Linked DNA regions of Homo sapiens. The protein of the gene in region 6 purifies or fractionates together with the protein of the main gene of each other region. This does not show direct contact. Each region holds a gene or a part of one and is shown on either strand. Other genes may lie near its edges. The genes, in order: EIF2S3B, AMOT, CREB3L2, POLR1B, DDX54, PTPN21 and ACAD8.

The links.
Region 1: the proteins of PTPN21 (region 6) and EIF2S3B purify together in Homo sapiens (affinity purification with mass spectrometry, with the first as the bait; one large-scale study listed by BioGRID). This does not show direct contact.
Region 2: the proteins of PTPN21 (region 6) and AMOT purify together in Homo sapiens (affinity purification with mass spectrometry, with the first as the bait; one large-scale study listed by BioGRID). This does not show direct contact.
Region 3: the proteins of PTPN21 (region 6) and CREB3L2 purify together in Homo sapiens (co-immunoprecipitation; one large-scale study listed by IntAct). This does not show direct contact.
Region 4: the proteins of PTPN21 (region 6) and POLR1B purify together in Homo sapiens (affinity purification with mass spectrometry, with the first as the bait; one large-scale study listed by BioGRID). This does not show direct contact.
Region 5: the proteins of PTPN21 (region 6) and DDX54 purify together in Homo sapiens (affinity purification with mass spectrometry, with the first as the bait; one large-scale study listed by BioGRID). This does not show direct contact.
Region 7: the proteins of PTPN21 (region 6) and ACAD8 purify together in Homo sapiens (affinity purification with mass spectrometry, with the first as the bait; one large-scale study listed by BioGRID). This does not show direct contact.

Annotation. Positions count from the first base shown.
Region 1 is NC_000012.12:10,504,564-10,508,689, reverse strand, and holds EIF2S3B (eukaryotic translation initiation factor 2 subunit 3B), read right to left. Parts: upstream 2,801-4,126; 5' UTR 2,788-2,800; coding exon 1,369-2,787; 3' UTR 165-1,368; downstream 1-164. UniProt on the Homo sapiens protein: Member of the eIF2 complex that functions in the early steps of protein synthesis by forming a ternary complex with GTP and initiator tRNA.
Region 2 is NC_000023.11:112,816,832-112,820,331, forward strand, and holds part of AMOT (angiomotin), read right to left. Parts: intron 2,608-3,500; exon of another isoform or gene 2,494-2,607; intron 1-2,493.
Region 3 is NC_000007.14:137,883,587-137,887,086, forward strand, and holds part of CREB3L2 (cyclic AMP-responsive element-binding protein 3-like protein 2), read right to left. Parts: intron 1,917-3,500; coding exon 1,817-1,916; intron 1,536-1,816; coding exon 1,409-1,535; intron 1-1,408. UniProt on the Homo sapiens protein: Transcription factor involved in unfolded protein response (UPR).
Region 4 is NC_000002.12:112,566,465-112,569,964, forward strand, and holds part of POLR1B (DNA-directed RNA polymerase I subunit RPA2), read left to right. Parts: intron 1-293; coding exon of another isoform or gene 294-431; intron 432-1,502; coding exon 1,503-1,673; intron 1,674-2,281; coding exon 2,282-2,438; intron 2,439-3,500. UniProt on the Homo sapiens protein: Catalytic core component of RNA polymerase I (Pol I), a DNA-dependent RNA polymerase which synthesizes ribosomal RNA precursors using the four ribonucleoside triphosphates as substrates.
Region 5 is NC_000012.12:113,161,479-113,164,978, forward strand, and holds part of DDX54 (ATP-dependent RNA helicase DDX54), read right to left. Parts: intron 2,808-3,500; coding exon 2,589-2,807; intron 1,797-2,588; coding exon 1,654-1,796; intron 1,568-1,653; coding exon 1,454-1,567; intron 520-1,453; coding exon 415-519; intron 1-414.
Region 6 is NC_000014.9:88,475,008-88,478,507, reverse strand, and holds part of PTPN21 (tyrosine-protein phosphatase non-receptor type 21), read left to right. Parts: intron 1-3,500.
Region 7 is NC_000011.10:134,260,068-134,263,567, reverse strand, and holds part of ACAD8 (isobutyryl-CoA dehydrogenase, mitochondrial), read right to left. Parts: coding exon of another isoform or gene 3,495-3,500; exon of another isoform or gene 3,404-3,494; intron 2,525-3,403; coding exon 2,389-2,524; intron 2,294-2,388; coding exon 2,196-2,293; intron 1,831-2,195; coding exon 1,678-1,830; intron 1,437-1,677; exon of another isoform or gene 1,292-1,436; intron 1,049-1,291; coding exon 946-1,048; intron 799-945; coding exon of another isoform or gene 689-798; exon of another isoform or gene 468-688; intron 233-467; coding exon of another isoform or gene 72-232; exon of another isoform or gene 1-71.

The DNA.
Region 1 (4,126 bases), on a different chromosome or scaffold from region 6:
TATTTTAATGTTATATATGGAGATTAATATTACTTTAGGTCAGCAGGAGAACCCAGGGATGTATAATCACAATGCCGTCTTCAGGGCTGGTTAAAGTTTGAATTACTTTATCAGAAGAACATGATAGAAAATATATTTTCTTTTTTTTTTTTTTTTTTTTTTTTGCTTTCTAACATCTTTTACTTATTGACCTTTTGAAACATCCAAAAATTAGTAATATTATAATCTGTGTCACAATCATATAACAGTTAAGAAAAAACATAAAATGAAGGCCTAGAAGGATCTTTGTTACTCATCTAGAATTATTTGGTATAACAGTATTTTCCAATGGAGGAAGACTATTGGATTTCAGGCATAAAACAATGCAGAAAAACATCTCAAGGCATCACAGGGAGAGGGAGATAACTTCTGACTCTAGTTTCCCGTATTTCAGGCCAGGAAGAGCAAGGGGAGAAAATTATTTGCCCATGGGAACAAGTAATCATGCTCTAAAGGACAATTTCATTCGAACCCATTCGTGCATCCTTTTCATGCAATTCGAACCCATTCATTGCATCCTTTTCATGCAAAATTTCAAAGATAAAGCAACATAAAATATGGGGCCAAAGAAAAGGGAGAAGGTCTTCAAGGATAATTTGTGCCTTTAAGTTTTTACTGGTACAACAGTCCTTCAGCCTGGAGGTACTCAAAGACGAATCATGAAAAACAAAAAAAAACTTTATTTCGAACAGTTTCAGTGATATATGTGTGTGCTACAGCAAAGGCTGGTTGTGGCAAAGTTTCATTTCAAACTGCATGATGTGGGCTAGGCAAGGTGGCTCACGCCTGTAATCCCGGCACTTTGTGAGGCCGAGGTGGGCTGATCACCCTGAGGTCAGGAGAGACTGGCCTGGCCAACATGCCGAAACCCCGTCTCTACTAATACAAAAATTAGCCCCGTGTGGTGGCACACACCTGTAATCTCAGCTACTTGGGGGGCTGAGGCAGGAGAATCGCTTGAACCTGGGAGGCAGAGATTGCAGATCATGCCACTACATGCCAGCCTAGGTGACAAAGCCAGACTCAAAAACAAAACAAAATAAAACAAACAAAAAAACTGCATAATGTATAATTTTGACATTATGTGGGAATGCTTAACTTCTGCCAAAATGTAGATTCAATCCAACATTATGCCAATTTTTATACTAATTGTAGTCCCTAAGTTTTCATAACCAAAAAAAAAAAGAGAGAATAACCTTACCGTTACCTACTAAGGTAACAAACTGTGAAATCAATTCCCCAATATCGCTTTGAAAATAAACCCCTTGGTTGTTAAAGAGAAATTGCAACTTCCAGCTCCATCCGAATGTATTATTTAACCGGTATTCTTCAGTCATCATCTACTGTTGGCTTGATTGTCACTCCTCTTCTTATCTGACCCCAACCAATTAAACGCCAGTGTTTTTCAACTCTTCGGCTAAGGGCAATTTTTTCTCCTACCTCTGTGCACACTGGATTGGTCAAAACAATTTTGCCCAAATCGGCCTTGACAGCACTAACTCTCCCTCCTGTCGACAGGGATCCTATGTTCACCATGAGCACTTCATTCTTAGACAGCTTTTGAACCTTTGCTGCTTTCTTGTCTCCTTCAGTGCGTACACCTAGAAGCCGTCTAAGCAGGAAATAGGAAATTTCCAATTCTGTGAATATCTCAGGTAAAGCTCCGACTGCACCAAGTATTTGCCCCACCATTCTGTCAGCCCGGCACAAAGTGGGGTCAATTTTTGTTCCAACTCCAATAAGACCGCCTGGAGCAGCATATTGCAGATCATTATGCTCCGCAAAAAGTGAAACAATTTTGGAAAAGATTGATTTACACATGAGTTTTCCTTCACTATCTTTGGAAACAATACCAGGTCTTACTTCTGTCTCCTGGCCCACCTTTAATACTCCTTTTAGGATACTACCACCAGCTACACCTCCCTTAAGGTCATCAACTTCACAGCCAGGTTTGTTGACATCAAAAGATCTAATAACAATAAGCCGGGGCTCTGAAGTAAAGTCTCTTGGGGGTACTGGAATTTTCTTTACTATGTACTCACAAACAACTTCAATATTGTATTTCAGCTGAGCCGAAATTGGAATAATGGGAGCTCCCTCTGCTACTGTACCTTGGACAAACGCAAGGATCTGCTCGTATTGTTCTTTAGCCTGCCTTTCTTTTACCAAATCAATTTTATTTTGTAGAATCAAAATATGCTTCAGTTTCATGATCTCTATAGCAGCCAGGTGTTCAGATGTCTGAGGCTGAGGGCAAGATTCATTACCAGCTATCAACAGAAGAGCTGCATCCATCACTGCTGCACCGTTCAGCATAGTAGCCATCAAAATATCGTGGCCAGGACAGTCAACAAAGGAAACATGTCTGACTAATCTGAAGTTCCCTTTGGTTCCTGGAATGTCTGTAGGAAACTCATCAGGCATACTGCTCCCACAAGATCGATAACATTCTGGCCGAGGGCAACTTGGGTCATCAAGTTGATAAATCTTAGCATTAGCATATCCAAGCTTGATTGTAATATTTCTTTCTAGTTCATTTTTGAACCTGACGGTGTGAACTCCAGAAATAGCTTTGACGACTGTGGATTTCCCATGAGCTACATGACCAATTGTACCTATATTAATTGTGGCTTGTCTGCTGATAACTTCGTGTGAAAGTGGCGTCAACTTGGTAACATCCAAGGTGGTGAGATCCTGACGCGAAAGGTGCGGCTGCCCCAGAGTCACCCCAGCTTCTCCGCCCGCCATGTTGCCAAAAGAGGAAGAAAGTCACCCCGGCTGCCGCCTGATCGTCTGCAGGGGTCCTAGTGCGGGGCGGGGATGCGGAGGCCGGAAGGTCGACTAGGGTCTCAGGATGGCCGGTGCAGCAGCGGCCTCAGTGCTTGGACTTCTCTCTGCTTGAATCTGCACAGTGCCTGTCGGTAGGCTTACTGGAAAACACGGTGCAAAGTTGCTGGAGCTATTCGTCGCAGACTTGGTAGATATTTGTGCAGGCAATACTGAGGGCAGCCACCCAAACCCCCGCCCCCTGGGCCCATGCGAGGCGGGTCGAAAATATATTTTCAGTTGACCACAGATAAATACTTAAAAAATTAATGGACCATTGTAATCTATTTATATGAAAATGGATCTTGTATATACAGCCTGCTATTACATTTCTAAGAAGACACAAAACCAGCAACACACTGAATAATTCTACACTAAATATTTTTCTTCTTTAAGAAGATTAATTATTAATATATTTATTTTTTGTTCGAAACAAATAGCTATGTCGTGGTTTATATTATAATTTTCATTTCTTCAAATTATGTTGGAGTGATGACCATTAATAGATGCTATATTGGAGATTTATTACAATAGCTTTATTGAGGTATAGTTTATATACAAAAAAACTGTGCATTTTTAACGTATACAATTTGATGAGTTTGGACATATGCATACATTCGTAATACCATCACCCAATGAAGATAGTAGGCATGTTTATCATCTACAAAGTTTTTCTTGAGTACCTTTATTTTGGGAGCAGAGGGCAAGTAAGACACTTGACATGAGATCTACCCTCCTAGCAGATTTTAAAGTGATCAACGTATTGTTGCTAACTATACGTACTATGTGGTACAGTATATCTCTAGAACTTATTCGTCTTTCGTAACTGAAACTTAACCAATTGAAAGTGAGTCCCTGGTAACCACCATTCTCTGTTCCTATGAATTTGACTACTTTAGATAACTCATATAGTATAATCATAAAGCATTTGTTCTTCTGTGACTGGCTTATTTTATTTAGCTTAATGTCCTCAAGGGTCATTCATGTTGTCATGAATGGCAGAATATTCTTTCTTTAAGGCTGAAGAATATTCCATCATATGTACATACTACATTTTCTTTATCTGTTCATCTGTCAGTGTACATTTAGGTTGTTTAAATATTATTTATTCTTGATAATCCTACCATTGATGTGGGAGTGCAGATATCTCTTCAAGATACTAATTTTAATTCTTTTGGATATACTGTATACCCAGAAGTGATATTATTGGGTTATATGGGTAGTTTTACTCTTAATTTTTGAGGAAGCTCTATACACCTTT
Region 2 (3,500 bases), on a different chromosome or scaffold from region 6:
GGTACATTGTTTAATGTGGCTCTCCCATTTTTGTACCTAATTACCAGGTACAAAATGCTAACACCTAAGTATAAATAATTCATACCTAATGACTATTAGCCATTAAGGGAAACAATTAGTATGTGGATGGATCACTTCCACCATCACCACTACCAGGAATAGTATCTGTCAGTGTGCACTGAAGACAAAAAGCTTGTTCATGCCCTAGCTCATGCCCAATTAACCTCATATGCTCCCATGTCCTGTGGACACTTGTTCTACAGTTGATATTTCTCAATCCAGGGAAGACAGATGGCTAAGTGCATGGGATCTGGATCCCAACAGAGGGAGTCTGGAGACCTCTTCTACTGCTCACGAGCTGTGTAACTTGGTGCAAGTTACTTAATCTGCATGAGCCCATTTTATTCTTGAGGTCACAAATAAATTGCAAAAATACTGGGGTCTTCTCATTTTTGGCGGAATAGGAATTACAGTCACTTCTCTACCTCCCAGTGAGATAAGCTGACCTTGTTAGCTTGTTACTTAAAGGATATCCATTTAATCTTTGCAATAAATTGCATAAAATTCATGGTGGAACTGGGACAAATCACCAGGAGCAATTAACTTTTAACTGGCATTCCAGATGCTAAAGCACATTCCTCAGACACACACTCCAGTTACCATTACTGTTCATGTATCCATCTTTACAAGAGATCTTAACTATAAGGGCTTTTTACAGCTACAAAATCATTCCAAACACTTTCTCATGGATACCCAATAACCTACATCTTCCCCAAGAGTCCTCAAACCTGTACAAACCCTGGATTCTGTCGCTCAGGCCCATCTATGCCTCTGGTGTACCCACATTCTTCCAATCACATACATCTGTCATTATAAATAATTGCTGAATATTGAAGAGGGCATGCGAACTATTTGGGCAAAGAAGAATTGACATGGTACTCATAAGTACAACTGGAAAGTTGCTGCCATACATAATATTTTTCCCCAGAGCTCAAAGCACTCATTCAATCAAAAGCCTGGGAGTTATTTATACATTTATTTGGTGAAGAGCTCCTATTTTCCATTCTATGGATCTTCAGTTTCCTCACAGGTAAAAGACTAAGTGCTCTTTTTTCTCTTTGAATGAGAGCTATTACAATTTCTACATGCCTACAGAGTTAAAATATAATGTCCTGAGATTTGTTGGGGCTTGTGTGTCTCTTTTCTGCTTTGTGGGCAGAAAAGAGGGGCTTAAGTTTCATGTTCTCCAATGCAGCTCTCAAATTTTAAGGGAAAAAAATCACTATATTAACCTTCATTTTTGTTCCCAGGATTTGCAGTCCAAGGCCTGGGAGGTATTCTCTTTTAAAGACTGAACGCCCAGTTCTGAAATGGGCTTTCTCTCCACAGCTCCCCTGGGCCTCATCAAGCAACCCAGGCCTCTCTCTCAAACAAACTCAGCCACTGGCCTCCCTCCTGCCTGGAGACTGAAAGGCCCCTGCATTCCCTGGACAACAGCACATGGCCTTCCAGGGACCTTGGGAAGGAGGAGACCATGAGGTCTCCAGAAGGAGGTCTCTGGGGTCAGATAAGCTGAGGATGAAGATAAGCAGAGACAAGGCAGCTGCCCCTCAATTCCCCAGGCTGGAAAAGGAAGCAGATCTCAGTGCACCGTGATGTTGGGAAAACCAAGGCAGCCCGTCACTGGCTGGTTTGCAAACCAGCAATGGCTTGGGCAGTCACAAAGGGAGAGAAAGCCCTTCAGTGAAGAACTCAATCTGGGCTCCAGCATCCACCCACCAGGGGAAAGCAGGACGGAATGAACACTGGGGTGAAGCTCCCCGTGAGAAAAAGAGATTAAGGAATGACGGGGTAAGGGAGAGTTGGAGGGGGCGGATGTCAGAGGAAGCCAAAATACACCCCAAGTTAAATAATAACAGTAAAAGTAATGACAGTAATAATAAAGGTGGCAGCCATGTGAGCAGCACACTCTCCAGGTCCTTCCAGCACACAGCAGCCTGAATCGCTCCCCACTGACACGTTAACCAGGAACAACAAGCCGCCTGCAGACAACAGAATCACATGATTCCATGCAAGCCCTGACCTGCCTCCTGCCACTTCCGTCCCCTCATCCTGCTCCTTCCTAAGGCTACCTGGGCCACTGGGGCTCTGCAGAAAAGGGGACATAGCATACATGCAGGACAAAGGCCAGTGACTAAAATCAGGATCCTCCCCAAAGCTGGGAAGTGGGGTAGGGTGGGGGGTACACTCCTCCCAGAGACAGTAGTAAGGACTCAAAGGGAAAGTAAAAGCCACTCTACCCAGCTGACACAGCACCTTCCACCCTGCCACCTCGATGACTGGGAGCCCTCACCCTCCCCAGCCACACACACATGCACACATGTGCATGCACACACACACTCCACACTCCTGGCACACACATGTGCAATCCTGCACACACACTCTCACCAGAGCAGGTGCCACCCAATAGCCTGGAACTTGATTGATCCTCACCACAGAAACTGCCTTTCCCAGGCTCTGCAATGGTGAATCGGTGAATCTGTGAATCCTGGAGCAGGCTGCAAATTCCTGATGGTTTCTCTTGCACAACCAGCTCTGCTCTGAACTACAGAGTTAGGTCACCCTTAGATTCCACTAAACAAGGATTTCAAGAAACCTCAGATCTGGGCATGATTTCAACAATTGAAAGGAGGTGGCTGCTTTATAAACAGAAATGATTTAATTTTTAAAAGCAGTTGATAAATGTATAAACCCAGGATGCAGAAAAGGTTCAGCACTTAGAAAGACAAAGATTCTGAAATTTTAAAATTATTCAGATAGCCTTTGCCTTGTTTCTCATCTGGGGTTCTGGGCATTCAAGGTATTTATTTTTTAAGGGGAGGAGGGCATAAGAAAGATGAAGTAATAAAAGGATTGTTTATAATTTTGTTCATTTTAACAGCAAATCTCCAGCAGTTCACTGCACCTCGAAAAGCAAGCAAATGTTTTCTTAACAGCAATTTGTTCAAAGAGTTTGCTTTGCATCCTGACTTGTAATTTGTGGATTAAGGGCTCAGAATGTAGTCTTCTAATTGGTTGCTGCTAGCAGCAGTTACTTGGAAAGGTACTCACAAACTGTATAGCTAGTTGGTTAAAGGAAATAAAGGAGGGAAAATGTGTCACCACCTTAAAGCAGTACACTTCTGGAAAGCAGTTCAACTACCTCCTTTTGCCAGTAATTTGTCAATAGGTGCCACTCCCTCATGTAGGGCCCTGCAACAATTTTACGGCCAGTATTTGCCTGATGCAGACCCAAATTTCATATGGAGCATCCTCCCACTAGGGCCATTTTAGGTTTGCTTATTCATCAAGCATTATCAAGCACTCTGCTCCTTTCCCATAGAGAAAAACCTGTTACAGCAAAACTGTGTATTAAAATGCTGCTCAACAAGGGTAGATCATCATGGGCTCTGTTGCTTTTGAGGACAGAAAGAAAGAGAAATCCACAGATAACTTAGGTG
Region 3 (3,500 bases), on a different chromosome or scaffold from region 6:
ATAATAAAATAGAACAATTCTAACCATATCTTCTAATAAAAGTTACATGAATGTGGCCTCTCTCTCTCAAAATTTCTTATGGTGGTGTACTCAGCTATTTTCAGATAACTGCAGGTATTTTTATTGGCTGCAGGTAGTGTTTCTTACTATAGTGTATTCAGCTATTTTAAGGTAACTGCAGGTATGTTCATTGGCTACAGGTAACTGAAAGCTTAGAATACAAAACCTCAGATAAGGGGGGACTACTGTACTGCCTAACCCCATGCTCATTCCTATAGGTGTAGGTGTGAATTTGTGTGTGTATTCCTTACTCACCATCCCTTTATTTCTAGGTGAGAACACCATACGCTTCTTATCTGACACCGGAGTCCCCATATTCTCTAGATCTTGGGCATAAGGTTTTGGAAGGCAGGCTGATTCTTTTTGTTTGTTTGTTTGAGATGGAGTCTTGCTCTGCCGCCCAGGCTGGGGTGCAGTGGCACGATCTCGGCTCACTGCAACCTCCGCCTCCCAGGTTCACGCCACTCTCCTGCCTCAGCCTCCCAAGTAGCTGGGACTATAGGTGCATGCACCACCATGCCCAGCTAATTTTTGTATTTTTAGTAGAGACGGGGTTTCAGCATATTGGCCAGGCTGGTCTTGAACTCCTCACCTTGCTGATTCTTTTTTTTTTTTTTTTTGATGGAGTCTCGCTCTGTCGTCTAGGCTGGAGTGCAGTGGTGCGATCTCGGCTCACTGCAAACTCCGCCTCCCAGGTTCACAATATTCTCCTGCCTCAGCCTCCCCAGTAGCTGGGACTACAGGTACCTGCCACCACGCCCGGCTAATTTTTTTGTATTTTTTAGTGGCGATGGGGTTTCACAGTGTTAGCCAGGATAGTCTCAATCTCCTGACCTCGTGATCTGCCCGCCTCGGCCTCCCAAAGTGCTGGGGTTACAGGCGTGAGCCACCACGCCCGGCCCTGACCTTGCTGTTTATTTAATTTCACTTTACAAGCCCTTACTATATACATTGCATTACATTACTCATACAATTCCACTCAGTGGAGGCAGAAACACAGCAGTTCTCTTAAAACGTCACAGAAAGCGACAGACTCTTTCCCTCATCTGCTTCCCTCTCCCTTATCAGAACTCAAAAATTAGATGTCAGAATGGATCAGGGAACACAGTCTAGAACAGCAGTTTGCAAACTGTGCTCTGTCAAGCTCTGGAGAATTCCCAGTGATGCCGCAGTCCAGTGGATGAGGGGCCCCAGGGGAACCCCCACTTGCCTCTTCAAAGGGAGAAGCTCCACTTTTACCACTTTTTAAACATTGGACTTTCACAGAAGATTCCTTTTGGAAGACTGAGAAACCCAGCTCTAGGGAAATAAAACAAGACCCTGCCCAACTTGCCACATGCTGTCTTACCCACGGAGGCTGTGTAGGGCTCCTGCAGGGAATGCTGGCTGGGCAGAGCCATCTTGGTGGCAGAAGGATAGGGCCCGTAGCCTTGAAAGAAGCTGCCGAATGCAACGGCAAAGCACAGCACCACAACCTGTGGGAGAGAAAGAGGGGAGAGAGAACACGAGGGGCTGTGGACTTCAGCCTCTGGACAGCACAGCTTTATACCCAGGGACACAGACTCTCCTCTTCAGGCCAGTGGACTGCACCCACCAGTCACATCACCAGAGTGCCTCACCGAGGAACAGCCTCAGAGTGGAGTTCCTCCATGTGGTTTCTCCTACAGCACAGCACTTGGCCTTGGCAAGTGGAGGGAGAGGGGAGACAGGGGCCAGGCCAGGGGCGGTCACTGTGCTACCCTGCTGGGAAGCTCACCATGAGGCAGGTGCCAGTCTGCGTGCCAGCTAACTTGCAGGTTCGAGAAACCTTGCCCATCACCAAAGTCTGAAGCTTCTGGAGTTGCTGAAGGAGAGTCCTGCCAATGATAACAACAGCCGTGAGGGGAGTCTGACAGAGAAGAGATGCTTTTTGATCTCTCCATGTGACCCAAGAAGGCCGCCGTGCCTTTGTGCCTGCATTTCAACAGAGCCCCAAGGGACAGTTTCCTCTGGAAGAAGATACGAACACCAGTACCTTCTAGCACCATTGTCACAGAGCTCACTGGGGCTCAGAATCAGCCTTCACACTTGAAAGTCCTGTTCTTGCACTGCCCTGAGTTAGAGGTAACTGCCTCCACATTACCCCTGACAGGCTGTGGCTTGTTTCTCAGCGATTGAGAACAAAGGAAAAGGAACACTCTGATTGGATGGTGGCTAAAGTCAGAATGGTTGTGTCTCTCCTAAATTCCTATGCTAAAACCCAGTCCTCTATGTGACGGTATTAGGATGCAGCACCTTTGGGAGATGATTAAGTCATAAATGGAGCCCTCATTGATGGGATTCGTGCCCTTATAAGGAGCTGAAAAGACTAGAGTGCTTCCCTTCCACTATGAGAGGACACAGCAAGAAGCTGCTTTTTGTGAACCAGAAAGCAGGCCCTCGCCCAACACGGAATCTCCCAACACTTTTATCTTGGACTTCCCAGCCTCCAGAACTGTAAGAGATCAATTTCTGTTGTTTGTAAGTGACCTCGTTTATTACATTTTGTTATAGCAACCTGAACAGACTAAGAAAATGTCGATTAAAAGAAGAACTCATTTAAGCAAGAGATGAGAAACATTGACAAAAACATAAAAAAGGGACAAAGGCAAAGAGAAGGAAAAATAAAAAATGACCAGCAGAGAACAACAGAAGGAGTGGCCAGAGGTGGGGGCTGTGACTGGAAATGCCAACAGAGAGTAACAGGCATTCACAGGCAGGTTAGAAGAGAGAGAGAAAGGCCAGAGGTGGGGGCTGTGACTGGAAATGCCAACACAGAGTAACAGGCATTCACAGGCAGGTTAGAAGAGAGAGAGAGAAAGGAGAGGAAAAACAAGAACGGCTCTGTTTAAGGCAGAGAGGCAAACAGCCACCTGCAGCTCAAGCCTGTGGTTCTTAAACGCTCACAGCACCTCCAGAGTCAGGAAACGAAGCCAACATATGAAAGAACAAAGATGCCTGCTCAACTGGACCCTCAAGCCCAGAGTCAAGGGTCTTTAAAACCATCCTTTGAAACAGATTCTAGCCTTTCTCCAGGAAAAAGACAAGAGAGCAAGAGCAGAAAAAAAAAAAGGAGACGTTTTATCCCTAAAATTGGACAACTGTGCCTCTCCTTAAAAGGCAAAGTTTGAGGGATAAGAACAGTCTTATATACTCTGCTCTGTGTGACATCAGCACACAGAGCAGATGGTAAAATTCTTTGCAAATTCTGAACACTGCAAGGCATAGAAAAGGATCTGACAACACACCCTCCTGAGTTAGAGCACCCGGGAAGAGTTCCCTGTGAGTGGTGTAAAGAGTTGAAGCTCCTCCTCATCCTCATCCCCCACCCCCAAACCCAGTGCATATGGCAAAGTGGAAAGATTTTATGAGCAGATGCTTTCTCTTGGGTCTCAAGGATTCTCGGAAAATGTGTGCTGTGA
Region 4 (3,500 bases), on a different chromosome or scaffold from region 6:
TTTTCTATGTTTATTAGTTGCTATTCTGTAAGGGAGGGCTTTCTTTTCTATTAGTTGTTCATTTATTTATGTTAGCGTAGATTTATAGATGCTTGTTTAATTTTGTGAATATTCTGTTACTACTTATTTTGATGCTCAGAAAGTGTATGAGATTTGATCTAGTGTACAGTTGAGGGTTTTAAGTACATTCATGTTGTGGAGTCATCACCATCTTCAGAACTTTCTCATCATCACAAATTGAAACTCTGTAACCATTAAACAATCATTCCTCTTTTTTTTTTTTTTTGAGGCAGAGTCTCGCTCTGTCGCCCAGGCTGCAGTGCAGTGGTGTGATCTTGGCTCACTGCAGCCTCCGCCTCCCATGTTCAAGCAATTCTCCTGCCTCGGTCTCCCAAGTAGCTGGGATTACAGGTGCACACCACCATGCCTGGGTAATTTTTATATTTTTAGTAGAGATGGGGTTTCTCCATGTTGCCCCGGCTGGTCTCGAACTCCTGACCTCAAATGAGCTACCTGCCTCATTAGTCTCAGATTTTATCTTTTTTATAGAGAATTTATTTTCATTCTCTTTTTTTTGGTTAGCATTGTGGAGCATCGGAGGATGAGGACACTTAAGATCTGCTCTCTTAGTAAATTTCAAGCATGCAATATAGTATTCTTAACTATAGTCACATGCTGTACATGAGATCTCCAGAAACTTAATTTTGTTGCATAACTGAAGCTTTATACTCTTTGACCAACATCTCCCCGTGTCCCCCTCCACCAAACATTCTCTCATTTTTAATGATAATGCATCTAGCTGTGAATCCCCATGAGTTCTGACACATGGGTTTGTTGTTGTTGTTGTTGTTGTTGTTGTTTTCAGGTTTCTGTAATTTAGGTTTTTATTTCTCCTTTCACCCAGGAGTTTGTTGGAGTTTTTTTGTTTTGTTTTTGAGACAGGGTCACTCTGTCACCCAGGCTGGAGTGCAGTGGCATGATCATGGCTCACTGCAGCCTCAACCTCCTGGGCTCAAGTGATCCTCCCACCTCAGCCTCCCGATTAGCTGGGACTACAGGCACGTACCACCACACTCAGGTAATTTTTTAATTTTTGTAGAGACGGGGTTTCATCATGTTGCCCAGGCTGGTCTTGAACCTCTGGGCTCAAGTGATCCACCCACTTTGGCCTCCTAAAGTGCTGGGATTACAGGTATAAGCCACCCCCGGCCCACCCATGAGTTTTTGGTTTATTAAATTTACAAATAAAACCAGTAATCTACTGTATTTTAGATCACAGAGGACAGAATTTCCTTTAGTGTATCGACACGTGCATTCATGGTGTGCTTTATCCTTAGCCTCAGTAGTTAGTGATTTGCCTACTAGCTGGGGTGAGCACCCAAGGAAGTAGGGCTTTTACCATGGCTGAGTGTGGATGAGTGGTATTCCATGGGGCATAAGACTGGCAGCGACAGCCATGGCCTTGGGACAGGTTTGTTAAACTCTGTTTTTGTTAAAAACAGGTGTTGAGAGAGAAAAGAATTCCTCCCTGGATGGAAGTGGTCCTTATACCCATGACAGGAAAACCAAGTCTGTACCCAGGATTGTTCCTTTTTACCACTCCTTGTAGACTGGTACGGCCTGTGCAGAACTTAGCATTGGGCAAAGAAGAGCTAATTGGAACTATGGAACAGGTAAATACATATGTGTGATGGATGAGTGTATGTGCTTGTTTGTATAGTATACAACTTTCAGAGACTTAACTCTTCCTTTTTTAAAAGGGTTGTTAATGTTACAACAACAGTTGGACATTTGAAAGAAAGTCAGACTTTCCACCTCCTCTATGATCAGCACAGAGCAATTTCCATGTCTGATCTCACTCCACAGAACCTGAGAGAGGGCTGGTGGTCACATTACCTGCCTCCCATCTTATCTAGCTCCCAGAACTCCTTTGTACCTGGCTCTGCCTCAGCCGTGAAGTGAAAACATTCCATTAGATTCACACTCAGTCTTTGCCTACATATTTACAGTTGCAAAATTATAGGCTTTGTGCTACTTAAAAATTTTTCTTCCTATTCCCCTTCACAATTGGTCTGGGGTAGTTTTAGAGTGAGATACGTAAAGCAAGTGGTATTTCTAACTGGTCGCTTCCCTGTGCTTCCCAGTTGATCCCTTCAGCACTCATGATGCTGGGTGGGGATGGTTTTCTCTTGAGTCTTTGAGTACTGAACTCTGAGAAATGGTAAGAGTAAATGTGTAACCAGTTGCAGTTATTTTGTGCCTTGGACATCTGCTCTTCCAGATCTTCATGAATGTCGCTATCTTTGAGGATGAAGTTTTTGCTGGAGTTACCACACACCAGGAACTCTTTCCACACAGCCTGCTGAGTGTGATTGCCAACTTCATCCCTTTCTCTGATCACAACCAGAGTCCACGGAACATGTACCAATGCCAGATGGGTAAGGAAGAGGGATGATGTTACAGTCACAATCAGGAAAGTAAACTTGATACTAGCACACTCTTTTATTGTCCTTATTTACATATGCTGACCATTTGTTCCAAAAATACAGTTTATGGCAAGTTTTTCTTTTTTCTGTGCCACAAGCAACCAGCCCAGGATCACTCATTGTATTTAGTTGGCATGTCTATTTAGTTTCCTGTAATTTATGACAGATCTTTAAACATTCTTTGTCTTTGACATTGACATTTTTGAAGAAAAAGGTATAGAATGTCCATAGATTTGGGTGTGCCTGAGGTCTTATTATTTGATTTTTTGAAGAATACAAGCAATTATAGTCACCCGCATATTTATCACTTCCAGTCCTCTTCATTCCTGCTGCAAGATTCAAGTTTTCATTGTATACAATTTTCCTTCAGCCTGATAATCTTCCTTTAGCATTTTTTTATAGTGCAGGTTGCTGGCCACAAATTCTCTTTGTTTTCATTTATCTGAAAATGTCTTTATTTTGCTTCACTTGAAGGAATCTTTCACTGGATATACAATTCTGAGTTGACAGTTATTTTTCTTCCAACACTTAAAAGTTGTTGTTACACTGTCTCTTCTTAGTCTCTGTCATTTCTAGTTAGAAGGCAGCAGTCTTCTGAATATAGTGTGTTTCTTTTTTTTTTTTTTTGAGACAGAGTCTCGCTCTGTCGCCTAGGCTGGAGTGCAGTGGTGTGATCTCGGCTTACTGCAACCTCTGTCTCCTGGGTTCAAGTGATTCTCCTGCTTCAGCCTTCCAAGTAGCTGGGTCTACAGGGACTCACCACCACACCCAGCTAATTTTTGTATTTTTAGTAGAGACGGGGTTTCACCATGTTGGCAAGGCTGGTCTCGAACTCCTGACCTCAGGTGACCTGCCCACTTTGGCCTCCCAAAGTGCTGTATTACAGGCGTGAGCCACTGCGCCCGGCCTCAAATTTTGTTTTTTTTCAGTTTAATTAAATTGCTAAACTCTTCTGTCATTATTTTTAAAAACATTGCTCCTATCCTTTTCTCTCTTTCCTCCTCTTCTATCAGT
Region 5 (3,500 bases), on a different chromosome or scaffold from region 6:
CGCAGCTGAAGCTGCTCGGCCCCGCCCCCAGCACACAGGTCCCACTTATTGGAGATGCTGTTGCTGAAGCTGCTCGGCCCCGCCCCCAGCACCAGGTCCCACTTATTGGAGATGCCGCTGCTGAAGCTGCTGGGCCCGCCCCCAGCACAGGCCCCACTTACTGGAGATGCTGCTGCTGAAGCTGCTGGGCCCCGCCCCCAGCACAGGTCCCACTAGTTCGAGATGCTGCTGCTGAAGCTGCTCGGCCCCGCCCCCAGCACCAGGTCCCATCTATTGGAGATGCGGCTGCTTAAGCCGCTCAGCCCCGCCCCCTCCTCCCCGCCCCCGCCCCCGCCCCCAGGTTCCACTTAATTGAAGCTGCTCCTGCTGAAGCTCCTCGGCCCCGCCCCTCCCCAGCCACGCCCCTCAGGATACAGGTCTCGCTTGTAGGAGCTGCTGATGTAGCGGCCGCTCTCTGTCTTAATCTTCTTCTTGTCTTCCTGTCCTGACTGTCCCACAAACCGCTTCTTCTTACGGTCCCTGCAGGAGAGGGAGTTGGGACGGCTGCCGTGGAGGGAAACCCTTGGAGTGCCGGCTGCCGCTTGGGGCCTGTCTCCTCACCCGACCCTCTTGTCAGGTTGTTGGAGCATTAAAGGAAAGCAGTGCAGCCATGTCTGGCATGCAGTTGGCGCTCAATAAAGGCTTCTTCCCTATCCCTCCTCACCTCTCCCTGCAGTCCAGGTCTCAAAAGGGAGTGCGGAGGTCAGAGGACTGCCGCCAGCACTGGGGCCTGGCTCAGGGACAAGGGCCTCCTGGAGGGTTTCCAATCCCCTCCCCCTACCCAGCTGTGACCCTGGGTTGAGTCACATACACTCTCCAGACGCTAGAGTCCTGAACGAATGGGTCCTGAGCCCTGTCTAGAAAGACTTGCCAGCAAAAAGAATAGACGGGGTCAAGATCTCTGTGGTGTGTGATCAAATCAAGGGGACAGCACAGCCAGGGGCCATCACACCTGCTGTGAGTGGTCACATGGGGGACAGCCAGGCCATAATCTGGGCTGTGCAGGATCAGATGGGAGTGAGGACTTCAGGGAGCTCACCCTGCCTGCTGGCATGGAGGGCAGCTCACTCGATCACTCACCCTGGGCCTGGAGGGGTGGCTCACTCGCTCACTCACCCCAGGGAATGGAGGGGCGGCTCACTCGCTCACTCACTTCAGGGAATGGAGGTAGGGGAGGCTCACTCGCTCACTCACCCCAGGCATGGAGGGGCAGCTCACTCTCTCACTCACCCTGGGCCTGGAGGGGCAGCTCACTCGATCACTCACCCCGGGCATGGAGGGGCGGCTCACTCACTCACTCACCCCGGGCATGGAGGGAGGGGCGGCTCACTCGATCACTCACCCCAGGCACGGAGGAGCAGCTCACTCGGTCACTCACCCCGAGCATGGAGGGGCGGCTCACTCGATCACTCACCACTTGAGCTGCTGCCGGCCCCTCGTCAGGTTCTGGGCTTCATCCCCCATCAAGTCCAGGACAGCGCCAGCTGCCTGCTGCTCAAAGGCTCCCCCTTCCCCGCTGATGCTCAGGCTGCAGAGGGAGAGTGGGAGACATAATTGGATTGATGGGACCCAGCGGACCCAACTGCCCCACCCAGGACCCAGCCAGCCACTCACCCCCGCTCGCTGTCAAAGTCCTTGGGCCGGTAGGGGATGTAGAATTCCTGGTCCCGCTGCCGGGCCTCCTCCCTCCGCCTCTTGGCTCCCCTGTTGGGTCCTGACCGCTGCCGCTTCCGGCCCACGACCTCTGAGAAAATGTCCTGGCAGAGCACAGACCAAGGCCCAGTGTCATGCCTGCTGCCCCCTGGGGACTTCCCCCTGCCTCCCTACCCACCAGCCTGGCCACAGTGAGGGGCCAGTGGCTTCTCGGGGACTTTCAAAGCTTCATTTTGCCATTTCTTAGCTGGGTGACAGTGTCTCCTGTGGGACCCTCAGTTTCCTCATCTGCACACACAGTGCAACCCCTGCCTCAGGGACCAGCAGAGGCAGGACAGCTGGGTGAGGAGGAGAGTGCCGGCCGAGGGAGACCCAACTCCCCATTCCAGCTCCGCACCCCAGGCTATGTGACAGCCGGCCCTGCCCCTCTCTGCGCCTGGCCTGCTCTGAACAACATGGACTAGGCCAGGGGTCTCCAACTGGTCTTCTTGGCTACTGAACCCTCTGTCCAAACAAAACATGAGAGAGGGACATCCTGGGGGACGCACAGGCCCAGGACCCACCCACCAGGTGAATGGGACACTTCATGGTCCTCCCTCTGAGTGGAGACCTACACGTCTCACTGCAGAAGCCCTGATGTGTTTGGTGGCTGGTGATGCCCCGGACCCCACTGAGGGTGTCATGTCGTGCACAGCTCCTCAGGCTAAAGATCTGGCCCCAGAGTTTTAAACGAGGGATGGTGGACAAGAACCATGCCCCGACTCTGCAGATGGGAAGCTGACTGCATCCACCTCCATCCACTGCTCAAAGATCCTAGGACAGCCTCATGGGCTGCTGGGACTTAGCCACCCCTTCCCCATACCCCAGGTCCAGGGTCCCCAGGGTGGAACCTGTACCTCCACACTCTCTCCCGCCTCCTCCTCCTCCTCCTTCTCAGGCTGCTTCTCCTGCAGTGCTGGGCGGCTCGGGGCTGGGCCCACTGGGCCCTCCTGCTGCTCCTGCCGCCCCTGCTGTCCCTGCTGGAAGCGGGCGATGGCCTTGCGGTCCTTCTGCCGCTTGGCGCGCATCACCTGGCTGCACAGGTCTCGGCTGGAGGCGTTGATCTCAAAGATAGTCTGTGGAGGGGACACCCAGTCCTTTGCCCACTGGCCTCCTACTCCTAACCCCACCCTTACCACTTGGTGGGCTTCCTATGGGCGTTCTTCCCCAAGTCTTCCCCAGTGTCCATTATCTGCACTTCACAATTAGATAGACAGACCCAGACCAGGCGCAGTGGCTCATGCCTGTAATCCCAGCACTTGAGGAGGCTGAGGCGGGTGGATCACTTGAGGTCAGGAGTTCGAGACTAGCCTGGCCAACACGGCGAAACCCCATCTCTGCTAAAAATACAAAAATTAGCTAGGTGTGGTGGTGGGCACCTGTAGTCCCAGCTACTTAGGAGGCTGAGGCAGGAGAATCACTTGAACCCAGAAGGCAGAGGTTGCAGTGAGCCGAGATTGCACCACTGCACCCCAGCCTGGGTAACAGAGCGAGACTCCATCTCAAAAACAAAACCAAACAAAAACACAGAGAGACCCAGGCCAGGCACCGTGGCTCACGCCTGTAATCTCAGCACTTTGGGAGGCTGAGGCAAGAGGATCACCTGAGCCCAGGGGTCTGAGAGCAGCCTAGGCAACATGACCTCATCTCTACAAAAAATAAAAAAAAATAGCTGGGTGTGGTGGCATGCACCTGTAGTCCCAGCTACTCAGGAGGCTGAGATAGGAGGATCGTTTGAGCCCAGGAGGTCAAGGCTGCAGTGAGCCATG
Region 6 (3,500 bases):
GATATCTGAAAAAAGCATCCAGGAAAGTGTACCCAATCCTAATATAATTCTCCAGGTTGGAGTGTGTGTGGATACAGCTTACATATCTTGGCCGTGATTCTCCAGAGTGATTCTGGAGTTGGGAAGGTGGCACTTTGTTAAGGCAAATCCTGAGACGTCCAGGTTTCTTAAATTTAAAAGAAAGATGAATTCAGCTGAGAATCTAAGGAAAGTCCCCGGTAGAAGATGCAGTTCTTTAATATTCAGCCTAATAAATAAATATGAATTAAGCACTTTTTACCTACTTTGAAGCAAAATATAAAAAAGCATAGTAGCATCATCTCTAGCTACCATCCTTGGAGCATTTGCCATGGGCCAAGCATTTCCTCTACTTTTGTGGCCTATTTACAGTAAGCCTATTGTTATGCCTGTTTTACAGATGAAGAAACAGACTTAGATATTAACTAACTTTTCCAAGGTCACATGACTAGTGAGTGACTGAACTGGAATTTTAAACCCATACTTAGAAGCCCATTCTGTTATCATCTACACTGTAGATGTATGTTCTGCATTGAAGTATACTGTATATGTTCTATTAAGTCATAATTGCTTGTTGAAGCCTTGCTAGTCTTTCACTGAAACTTTTAAACTCAGTCCTTAACCTGGGACTAAGCATCTGCGGCCTTGTCATGAAGTGTGTCCACCGAAGTGATTTTGTTGCAGTGCTCAGGCTTCCAGCTCTTCCTGGCCCACATCTCCACTCCTCATGCCCTGCACTTGAGCCAGGCTAACTTGATTAGGGCCTCCATCCTATCTCCTGTTGGCTTCCAGTGTCCTGGCAACTAGGGTTCTCCTCCCCCCATCGCTGCTAAACTGCAAACTCCGACAGGACGGCTCATCTCAAGTGTGGTTCTGGCCTAGTGTATGACATCCTTTAAGATGCTGCAAACATCTTGCTAAACAGGAAAAAACGCACACTATTATAGTACTTATGAAAGAGATTAATGTACATAGACAAAAACTACTTAACAAAAAAAGTACCACAGATTTAAATTTGCTTTTTTTTTTTTTTTTTTTTTTTTAGAACAGTCTTGCCCTGTTGCCCAGGCTGGAGTGCAGTGGTGTGATCTCAGTTCACTGCAACCTCTGCCTCCTGGGTTCAAGCGATTCCCCTGCCTTGTGATCTGGCTGCCTCAGCCTCCCAAAGTGCTGGGATTACAGGTGTGAGCCACCACACCTGGCCTAAATTTGCTTTCTTTTAATAAGTTTTGGGTTTGAATTTTAAGTTGATTTTTAAATTTTTCACAAGTATGCAACATAACTCACATCCCTGAACAGTAAAGGCCAATGCCTTCAGTGGACACAGATTTAAGAGTGTAGGGAGCAGTGATTCAGGATAAGGTGTGGGTAGATTTTCCAAAGTAACTCTACCTGAATCCCTGAGCCAGCTGGACAGGGTCCTTTTATAGTTAACACCCTTCCCATTGCATTAAGAACGGTCTGTTTTTATGTGTGACTCACGTACTTTCCCCAAATGCTATCTGAGTACAGCTCAGTACTCAGGCCTATTTTATCCCTGTATGTTTTGAATGGGGTCTGGTAGGTTCAGTTAAATCTGAGGACTTTGATCAATTTGGTTCTCTTAAAAGAACTTTTCTCTCCCATTGACTTTTAAGACCACAATACTAGTAAAATTATGTGATTGGATTATGTTTTTGGTCCTTTTTGCTTAAAGGATTCTACTTAAGGAATGGGTATGGCAGCTGTGGTCACGAGGAAAGAGCAAAGGTCCTACAAGTTAAGAACGTTGGGGCTGAGTCTAGAGCCTGCCATTTGTTAGTTCTCTGTGACCACGGTCAGGACCCTTCATGCGTCAGAACCTCAGCTTCCACATCAGATAACCTCAGATCATGAGGACGGTCATCCCTTCGCTGCCTGCTTCGTGGCATTATGTCCCACATGCAGTTAGGCATGAAAAAATGCCTCCTGAATTACATGATTCAGTGTAACTGATTTTAACCAAAGATTTGCTTTTATTTGTTTTGACACTGATTACCTTGTAAAAGAGGCAGCCATGTGACCTCAGACAAGCTATTTAATCTGTGACTCAGTTTTTACATTTGTAAATGAGAGGACCCCAGAGAGTTGTTGGGGGGATAAAAATGAGGTTCTGGCACATTGAAAGAGATTAGTCAATATTAACATTACTGTGAGGTGGCATCATATATTTAACTTAATGGCTTTCAAGAGTGGAAGAGGCCAATTCCCTATTGTACCCTCTGACCTTTCATAGTAACATGGGGTTGCCATTATCTTAATCGTTACAACAAATTTCCTAATGTGAATTAAGGTTATGGAGGTTTAGTATTAAAAACAGTGAAATAAACTGTAGACAAGTAGGAATGATTTTAGAATTCTCCACCCATCTCCACCTCCAGCAACCTGATTGTTATCTTAAAGGCAGACTGGTTTGGGTGCTCATATATCTACATAAAGATTTTCTTTTTGTTGTACCCTTTAGTGCAGTGGTTCTCACATAAGAAATCACTGTGCAGGGTATGCATTAAAATCCTGTGCTTATATTCTAAGGGCTAATTAAGGCATATTCAAGGCTAGTTTTGACTACATACAACATTCTTCCAATACTGGCTTTTGAACTGACCTCACAGCCAATCAGCTTTATCCAGCGTGTCCCAGTGTGGGATATTTTGAGTCATTTTCAGGCAGAGAAGTGCCAGAGCTAGTTCATATTGACTAGCAAGAGCCGACTTAAATGTTCAGGAACCTTGTGAGCCAATTGATGTGACATTAACAGTTTGAAATTGGCTGTGATGGGAGTATTTACACCATGGATATGGGCAAACACCGATCAAAACTTCCTTCCAAGAGCCTGTTGTTAAATATTACCAGCACATCACTGTTTTCTGCACGTTAGAATCATTAAATTTCAGCCTAAGCAGGAAGTGTTTAGTCTGTATGCCTGTGTCTGGATATATCTGTCTCTTTCTGTCTAGGTGAGGCTTACAGAGGAAAGGTGACTTGCCTGAAAGAAGTTGGTCAGTTAGAGGCCAGATGTGAACCCAGGCCTCTGCTGTTTATAGTCTAGACTGCATTATGTGGGGAGCTCATGATCAAATATTAATTATAAAATTAAAAATTAATCCACTTAGCTTATTGAGTTAGGTACCAATCACAGTCTCCAATTACAGCAGCAATCTTTTAGGATTTTTTTCCTCTCTCACCAAGTTGCCTTTTCCCTCTGTTCTTGCACCATTATCATGGGGCTTCATGGCCTGTTACAGGCTGAGAGAGCTGGAATAACACGGATTTTGTTTACAGGGCAGAACCATTATTTTCCAGTTGGGGCTACTCATTATATTGATATCATCCAAGGAAGTGTAGTATATCCAACGAAACTTAGTGTTCTTTTTTTTTTTGGAGACGGAGTCTCACTCTGCCTCCAGGCTGGAGTGCAGTGGCACGATCTCAGCTCACTGTAATCTCCACCTCCCAGGTTCAAG
Region 7 (3,500 bases), on a different chromosome or scaffold from region 6:
CAGCGGTCTAACCTGTGGTAGCCTGTGACTCTGACATTAACACCAGAGCGGTGGGTCTCAAAGTGTGGTTCTCAGACAAGCTGTGGCAGCCTCACTTGAAGACTTGTTGCAGATACAAATTCCCAGGCCCACACTAGACCCTCTGGAGCAGAAGCTCTGGGGTTGAGGCCCGCAATCTGCGCTCCCATGCCCTCCAGGCGATTCCAGCACAGGCTGAGGTTTGAGAAGGGTGCTGTGAAAGGGGCAGGGAAGCCCCATTATATAATGTTTCCAGCAAGGCAGCCTCACGTTGCTTCACCGAAGTCACTCAAAGAAGCCTCTGCCCCTCCTGCTTTTCCAAGAGTCGTGTCATTTCAAGACTTCCGCACTGGCTGTAGAGAGTGGAGACAGCCAGGCTCCGAGCCCGACCCCAACGGCTTCCATGTTTCCTCGATAGAATGTCTGTGACTACCAAGAAGATACCCATATAGTGATGGTTTATTTTATTGAAAAATACACTAGTAATATTGAGACAGGTATCTTTTAGGCCATCTGGCTGATAATCAATATAGAGCTACTGATGACCATACTGGCTCACATTTGCCTTGTCCATCACTGTTCTTGGATCCCTGAGAACCACGTACTCGATAACCTTAGAGAAAAGCCCCGGCTGTGGTTTTCAACATGCTTTCTCATCCATTATCTCAGTTCACCCTTCTCGCAGATCTCCAGAGGAAAAGGGCAGCAGCAGAGCGATCTGAGGCCCCCCGAAAGGGACGAAGCTGCGGCTCTGGACTCCAGGCCCCTGCCAGAACAGCTCTGCGGAACGGGAGGGAGGAGGAAGCCTCGAGACAGACAGGGCTTGACTGCACCCTGAGGCCCAGGAGGCATGGGGACAGAGAGTGGGGAAAGCAGCGATCCCGCCCCCGTTCTGAAGGGAAGAGAATAACCTCTGGCAATTTTTACCTTCTAGAATCTGGTGGACCCTGGAGTCCCGCACGTACTGCTGAACAGCGTAATCCTTCAGGTAGCCGTAGCCCCCGTGCATCTGCAAGGCCTGGTTGCAGATCTGCAGGGAGACAGGGACTAGACGTCTTGGACTCTGGGAAGACTGTGGAGCAAGCAGCTTCCCTTCCTACCCCAGCCCACGATCTGGCAGCCCGCCATAAACCCATGAAAGAACCACAAACAGCCAAGCTCAAAGAGGGCCTCCACATTCTGTATGGTTAGAGACAAGGGAAGTTCACCTACTAAACTTGTCAGTTCCCCCCAGACAGGCGACTCAAAGCCCTCTGCCCCTCTCCCTTATTACCTGCCAGGCAGAAGCTGCCCACAGCCACCCTGGCTGGGATGATAAAAAGCTATGGTTCCCCCTAGTGGCAATGCAGCCTGACAATGTAAACATGGCAGAGTGCTAAATTGGGGCTGCTGTGAACCTTCCAAAGGTGGTTTCTCGCCTAGAACACAACCAAACAACAGTGACATAATGAAGTGTATAATGGCATGCAGCAGGCCTAAAAGCCAGCGATGAGAGCTCCCACATAGGCCGCTCATGAGTTCATTTATATCCTTAAGCTTAAGGTGATCCTTGTGGGATTCCAGGAGGGCTGGGTTCCAAATCTGACTCATGTCTCTCAAGACCCCTGGGCCTAGCAGCTGTTCCCTGTCCATCCCAGGAGAGCCAGAGGAATCACTTACGGCAAAGCATTCATCTGTAGCAAAGAGCTTGGCCATGGAGCACAAGGCCACTGCATCCTTCCTCTCCTCCTGCAGAGCCACTGCTGCATTGCGGACCATCAGCCGCGCGGCCACCAGCCTTGTTGCCATATCAGCCAGTGTGAATTGCAAGTACTGCAGCACAGGGAGCAGAGAACCAGACAAGACTGAGGGGCTTAGACCAGCACCTGGTGCAGGAGCCTCGGTAAGACATCTCGGAGGCGCCTTTTCTAAGTGATCCAAAGCTTCAAAGTCTCTTGCTTTTTCTATAGAGGAAATTTATTGCTTTTAAGTGCTAAGTCCACTTCACTCACCCGACACTTTAATATCGTTAAAGATATCCCAAGAAAAGATGGACAGAAATAAAGCACAAGCTCTGGCTAGGACAGTGGTGGGACTGACAGAGGAATTTCCTGGCTTCTCTCCTGGAAATGTGGGCCCTAGAGCAGGTCCCGGGCTGCAAATAGTGCAAAGCCATGTGGAGGCAAGGCAGAGGTTACCTGGTTACTGGCCAGAGGCTCTCCAAACTGCTTCCGGACATTGAGGTGGTCTCGGGTGAGGATGACAGAGGCGTGGGCAGCCCCCAGGGAGCAGGAAGCTAGAGGGGAAGAGCGCCGACGTTCCAACCAAGCTGGAAAACAGCAGTGCCTGTCCCGGACCGCTACCTCCCTGCCACACCCCTGCGTATCTCACCAATATTGATCCTCCCTCCGTTCAGTCCTCTCACGGCAATGAGGAAGCCCTGCCCCTCGCTCCCAATTCTGTTGGCCACAGGGACAGCACAGTCTTCGAAGATCACAGCTCGTGTTGGCTGGGAGTTCCACCCCACCTGGCAAAAATCAGGGACTGCGTGGTTGCCCAACAATCCAGCAGGTAGGGCGGCCTTCCCTGGGGACGGGAGCCTGTGAGGTATGGGTTTCAGCACCCAAGACTTAGACCCACAAGAACTTAAAATGAGGAAAAAGAAAAAGTTCAGGTTTAAAGGCCTGTCAGCACTCAGAAAGATACCTGTTTCAGCTAAACATTTTCTAACTTATTAAGAGAATCTACTAATGTCTACTCTACCTGACTAACCTACAAACACTTCTCACAACTTCTTTTAGGATTGTGACACCAACTGCCCCCAATTTCAGTGCCTCTAATTGAAAACCACAAACTATCTACAATCTCCCAGTTCCTCTCTGGCTCTGAAAATAGACTGCCTTTACATCATTTCCTTGCTCTCTTTTGTTGATAGGATAAACTCCATTTCTAAGCCTTTTACTGAAGGTCTTCCTGCCCAGGAGTTAGCATGGGCTTCACACACAGTAGAAGCCTAGGAAATGGTTGCTGTGTTACCAAAGAGAAGGGGATGCTAAAATGCATAATGCCTTACAGTTACAGAGGATCAGGAAGGATCCTGTAGGAAAATACAGAAACCCGAGGAGCTGTGAGAAAGAGGTACACTTAGGGGTCATTTCATTACCTGCCTTCTCTCACAAAGTCCCCCCATAACAGTACAAACTAGAGAGAGATGACTGCTTTGAGCATCTGGTCTAAAAAATCTGAATGGGTCTTGAGCCCTTATTACCAATTACGGTTACATGATCACAAGTCTCCTGTTCATGCCCTGGCCATGGCGGCTCTTAATCCTAGAAGTATCTTACTTTTCAAATTACTTACAGTACCTAAGTGTCCTTCTTGGGTTGCTGAAATACCCACAATCATCTCCAATGAGTTTTACTTTATTTTTAATCAAAGAAGCAAAAGGGACCACACGCCTTCCATTACTGAGACTTGTGGCCAACACCAGGTCTTCTCTAAGC